2 separate regions of the Homo sapiens genome follow, and region 1 is linked to region 2. The links come from fine-mapping of genetic effects on gene expression. Tissue or cell type: cerebellum. Region 2 holds a variant in brackets; the other region holds the start of a gene. All regions are shown on one strand. Distances are from middle to middle.

Region 1 (2,915 bases), 97 kb before region 2:
TTCTATAACTCCATCATGTCTCTTATTGTTCCTTAGCAGCTTATTTTATTTGTCTCAACAGCTATTTTCAATAGAACTGCATTTTAAGGAACTTAAAAAGCATACTCTCTCCTTCCATTCTGATGTCAGATTGTACAATAAAGCAGCCCACTGTGACTATCGGGACGTAAATTTTACCTTTTAGGGAAGAGGAGTATTGAAAAATGCCAGGGGAGCATCTCCTGGTGGGAGAAAGCTAAAGAAATCCCTGTTTGTTCCAAGACAGGTGGCTAGGCATTCATATATCATACATACTTTCTTCGGGGACCATTTTGCTGAGTCAGCAGAGTGAAATCTGGTGAAATAGATCCACAAATCTCCCACTGGCATCCATTTCCTTCATCTAACCTTTATTGCAAGTAGATGTCTCCAAGACTAGGCATTCATCCATTCTTTCATCCGTCAAAAAATGATGACTTTCTGTGTGTTAGGAAACGAAGATATTTCAGTGAACGAAGCAGGCATGGCTGTTGCCTTCATGGAACTAACAGTTGAGCAGGAAAGCTGGAAAATAAACAAAATATTCCTCAAATAACTAATTCATCATAGAAGATTTCCCCCAGTTGTCAGGAGTGCTGAGTTTGACCGTGTGAGGTTGGGGGAGAAAGATGGTTGCCAAGCGCTTCAAATTCGTACTCTTTCACTATGAAACCAGAGGCAAAGCTGTTTCTACTCTAGTCCCCAAAATTGTAAGGCAGGAGGGCCCTTGATAACCCGGAAGGCTTGGATCACCATCCGCACCCCTAAGAGACCTGATCATATGCCCACCCGGTAGGTTGGGGGTCAGGAAAATATGTTCCAGAGGAGTAGAGATGAGGAAATTTGCTGATCAGACCAAAACAAACAAACAAAAACTCTACCCCTATATTCACATATGTATAGGCCATAAGTATCTGTGGCTTATTTTAAAATCAAGCAGAAAGCCGGTGCAATGTTTAAGCAAGGAAGTGATTGATCAGATTTATTTAAATCGCCCTGGCTGCATTGTGGACAATGGCATGGATATAAACTAAGATTAGAGGCAATGAGAACAGTTAGAAGATTATTTCAGACCAGCGAAGATGGTACCTTGGTGATGGCTTTGATGATAAAAACAGAGTCAAGAGCTATTTAGTAGATGAAATATCAACAGGTGGTTGACTATGAAAGGATAATGAAAAGGGAGAGATCAAGACAAACGGATTTCCAAGTTGAGCGACATATTCAGCAATTCTTAACCTAGCCGTACCTTAAACTCACGTGGAGATCTTCACAACAGAAATTCTGATTTAATTGGTTCAGCAGGTGGTCCAGGAGCAGGTATGTTTCAAAGCCCTCAGATGTTTCAAATGTGTACTCAGGTTAGAGAGTCCCTCTAAATGAGACAATCGTTCCAAGGTAGATAACACTGGACAGGGAGGAAGTTTCAGAGAAAATGCCATGCATTCCATCCTGTATGGATTTTTTTCAGAGAGGCTTGTAACTCTTCCAAGTGAGATATCAAGTTAAGAGTTGAATTACATATCCGGGTGTTAGAGGAAAGATCTAAATTGAAGACAGGTGAAAGTGATTGACATTCCTATTGTAATAGAAGTCATGGTTGAAGAGGCAATGGCCAAGGAAAAGAGTATAGTGAGAAAATAAAAGGGCCCTGAAAAACCTCTTATTAAAGATAGAGGATAATGAGTCAGCAAAAGAGACTGTGAAGGAATGTTGGTAAGTTAGAAGGAAACCAGGAAAATAGGCGTTGCCAAAGTCAATGCAAGAGAATGTTTCACGAAGAGAGTGCATAAGTGGGCTGAAAGCTGTGTTTAATTTTGACAAGTCCTGGAACTCCATCCTTCTCCCAACTGTCTAACCTCTGGGTTGATTTTAGGCTCTCCCCGTGATAAGGCTCTACTTTGCCAAAATAACCATTAGCAGAGAATTATGATTTAAAAGTCAAATTGTGGGAAACTCCAAAGCCCATTTTTTGAAGATTTGGAAAATAATTACAATCTCATTTCAGATACTAGACACAAAAGATAGCATTCTATGTTCACATGCAGTCACGATTTCTAGCACTTTCTTATATTATGTTCACCTGTTTGTGGGCTTGCAATTGGCAAGGATTGCAACTCTTTCAGTGTTTGCTAGCATTCTCTCTGTTGCCAAGCAGACACAGGGCAGAACGAATACAGAGTGATCTTTCAGGACTTGTCTTCTCTTCGGGCTCTTACTGTAACATATACAGATTTTTGTTACTGTCACAGTATCCATGTCATTTTATTTCTTTCATGTGTGTCCTCTTATGCTTTCCATGAGAGCAGGTAATATTATTAGATGAGCTTTTATCTCTGGGGCCTGTCACAGTGCCTAGCACTGTGAACTGAATACGTGTTTGCTGAATGAATGGAAAGTTGCATAATTTTTCTGTGAACTCATGAACAGCCAATCTGCAAATTCCATCTCTAAGTACTCTTTCATCGTAGACTGTAAAATATTGTTTAAATAAAGGATGTGGTTTACCCATGTTTAAATTTTAGGTCCATTTTCTATGGAGTTAGTAAAATCTCATTCCAATACAAATTGTTTAATCCCTTGGTGCCGGGGGTTTTCTGCCTGTAAAATAAGAATGGCAATGCTGATTTCCCCTGGCACTGCAGTGAAGACTGTAGAACTCAGAACTCTACTTGTCTGTAAGAGGTACTCGGGTTTGACAACCAGTTGATCACCATTTTTTCTTATTCTATCTGAGTATATGTTGGTTCAGGCACTGTGAGGGGCAACAGATAAGTTCTCTGGATCTATTTACAGCTGCTCCTGGAGCAGTTGCTAAAGGCTGGGTCATGTTGATTGTGTTTGTTTTTGTTTTTGTTGTTTGTTTGTTTGCTACGGGAGTGATTTTTCTAGAGTTC
Region 2 (2,915 bases):
CCTCACCCAGCGGGCCTGTTTCCCACTCGCCCACGTCCCCGCTCCCATTGAGTCACCCCCATATGCAGGCCCACTGTGAGCTCGGAGGCAGGAGAGCCTCGCTCCCTAATTCCCGCTCTCTGCCCCCTACAGAAAACCCCTAAAGGTCTCGACCCCTCTTAAGCCCCTCCACCCCGGGGAGCCTTCCCCTGCAGACTCCACGCTTCTGCGCGGCCTTTTGACCCCATTTCGCATGAAATCTGCAGAGCGACCGCCCCAAGGACCAGCGAGCGCTAATCAGATCCGTCTGTGTCTGCAGAGCTTCACCTGAGGCCTGGGTCCCCGAGGGCGGATGAGCGGGCCGGCTCTCGGGCCCGGGCTGGGGGACCCGCAGTCCGCGGTCGGCGGGGATGGGGAGGGGTGGCCGCCTGCCGCGCGGCTCCCGCGGGCCGTCGCCAGGTGCACGGTCCCCCTGGTCCCCCGCAGGGAGGACGCCCCCTGGTGCCCCCGCCGCCGCCGGGCCTGGGAGCTCCAGAGCGGGCGGGAGGCGGGGTCGGCGGGGCTGGATCTTGACGCCAGTCCAAGGCCGGGTGACTACTGGGGTCTGCCCGCGCCGCGGACGCGCCGAGCCCTCTCAGTGTGGCGCTGCCCGGCGGCGAGGGGGGTGTGGAACGAAGCACGGTCAAGACAGAAAACAAAGTCAGCAGGTCACCTGGCAGGTTCTGGGCGAATTATGCAACGAAAGCAGGGGAATGTTTGATGCGTCCCACTCCACACCCCCCCAACCTTTTTTTTTTTTTTTTAAGCTCCTAGGAAGCCGGTTCCAGTTTAAGGGTTGGGTAGGGATCGACCAAGCAGCTCCTCTGATGTGGTTACGACTTTGCCGAACTCCTCAAGGGCGAGCTTCCCTCCCCATCTTTCTTTCAGTAATAGGAACATTACTCTGGAGAAAAAAAAAAAAAAAAAACATGAATGGGGTGAAATGGTAGGCTTGATCCAAAAGCAACGCCGAGAATCACCCTACGACTTCCGTCAGGTACTGAACTGAATATTAGGCAAAAATAGTAAATGCCGAAACCTAAATCACACACATCCAATTTTTTTTATTTTTTTTTTAATCTCCCCGGGTCTCAGGACTAAGCTTTCAAACAGAATTTAAAGAGTTAACGCTGGCCATAGCTCTTTGTTTTCCATGCTAACATTTGTGGCATTAGGACTATTTTGTTAACTAGGTATATGCAATTCACAGAATTTCACGGTAAATTCCCCAGACCAAATATTTGGCTGAACAAATAAACAACATTATCCATTCCTGAAAATAAGCCAGTAGGAGCGGGGAGGATGGAGGAAGGGGCTGGTTGCTAGAACTGGACAGCCACAGGGCTCAGTACTGGCCCTAGGATAATTTGTTCAAGTACTGGAGATCTACTGGTTCCTTTTCAATGACATCGACGTTTCAGAAAGTTGCTAGAAATTGGGCAAAACAAAATGAGGCTGCCTGAGGGCAATCTATAAGGGGCTTCCCTAAATGATTTATTTGAGCTCCATACCATTAATCAAAGGGGCAGCGACCTGGGGGGTTGGAGGGGTGGGGGAAGGATCCCTTTTTGCGGGGAGTTTTGGAGGAACTGTGTAGTCTTGCTGCCTTTGCCTG[G/A]GGCTCTGATGTCTTCTCTCCACCTGCGCTCTCCGGGGAGCTGGGGTTTTGGCAACCACCCCGCTTCAATTTTTATTGGTTTCCACTAAGCTGCTCCTTTTGGAGGAGTGTAGGACTTCAGTAATTAAAAACAAAAATGAATCCTGCTTCACCCACTCCACTCCCAGGAGCGTATGTAAGAAAGTGTGTACAAGAATGCAAGGGTGCACACCCCACCTAGAAAAATGCAAACGCCAGGAGTGTGCACCACACACATTCTTTGGGTGCACACACCACCAGCAACAGCAATACTACCGCTCATATCTACACCTTCATGATGGAGAAATGCGCTATCAGCCTTCCCCACAGAGAACATACAAAGACACTAAATGTTTCTGCTCCAAAGGGATCCAAAGGGATCTTGGTCTGTGCTGGCTCACTTCATATGTGTGAATTTTCTCAGCACACATATGAAATGAGCCAGCACAGACCAAGATTCAAGGCTTAATTTAGTTGTTGGTGGCAAGTAAGAAAAAGCAAAGGCCTCTCCTCTGCTCCTCTTAATCCCTACACCCGTCATTCCAGAAAGGCATTTATCTGCCTGCTGGGAGCCCTTAACTGAGGGTACATTAGCATCCTCCTTTTTATTAACTTTGTCCAAAAATTGAGCTTTTCCCTTTAAGAAACCCTAGCACAGAACATCAGATCTACCTCTTTCTGCCCAAGTCCAGGGAAGAGGGTGTGAGGGAGGCAGTACAGAGCGAAAAGGAGAGTTGACATTTGACTCGAGATTTCTGTATAATAGTGGGACACCTTCACAGTGCCTGCTTAGAAATTCTGACCCTTTAGTATCTGACCCCATTGTCAACCCCCACCCAGCCCAATCTGTTGGGATCCTAAACTTGATGAAGGCCTTCACATTGGGAAAAGAGGACAAGGGAAAAAGTCAAGAAACAATGGGAAATTCTATCAAGTGGCATATTAAAACAGTAGTCATCAAACTTTTTGAAGGTAGGGTACATTATTTGTTACAAAAAAAAAAAAAAAAGACAAAATAGCAGTGCATGCCTGTAATCCCAAAGAGGCCGAAATGAGAAGATTGCTTGAGCCCAGGAGTTCAAGACCAGCCTGGGGCAACAAAGAGAGAACTTGTTTCAAAAAAAAAAAAAGACAAAAGAAAAAACAAAAGAGTCCTACCTGGAGAAAAAAAAAATAAGTTTAAAAACATGCCTTCACACACACATTATGATGTTAGTGTACAAATTAGTTTTGATTTGGAAATATCACATTGGTACCTGTAATA

Direction of the effects. Positions count from the first base shown, and alleles are read on the strand shown. Sizes are in standard deviations (SD) of each study's normalised expression.
For the expression in cerebellum of the gene that starts at base 1,399 in region 1, allele A in region 2 goes with a higher level than allele G (moderate effect, 0.66 SD a copy in GTEx).

What was found.
Region 1: it holds the start of LINC02331, and the variant in region 2 is fine-mapped to the expression of LINC02331 in cerebellum (GTEx, PIP 0.95).

Annotation. Positions count from the first base shown.
Region 1 is chr14:53,849,428-53,852,342 of GRCh38, forward strand. It overlaps LINC02331 (long intergenic non-protein coding RNA 2331), which reads right to left and starts at 1,399. Exons shown (of 6, transcript NR_184221.1): 1 at 1,268-1,399; 2 at 388-543. RefSeq lists an enhancer at 658-1,857.
Region 2 is chr14:53,946,387-53,949,301 of GRCh38, forward strand. MIR5580 (microRNA 5580) reads right to left here and starts at 2,098; the gene lies at 2,041-2,098. RefSeq lists an enhancer at 1-493 and a silencer at 464-513. The variant G/A (reference allele first, on the strand shown) is at 1,634.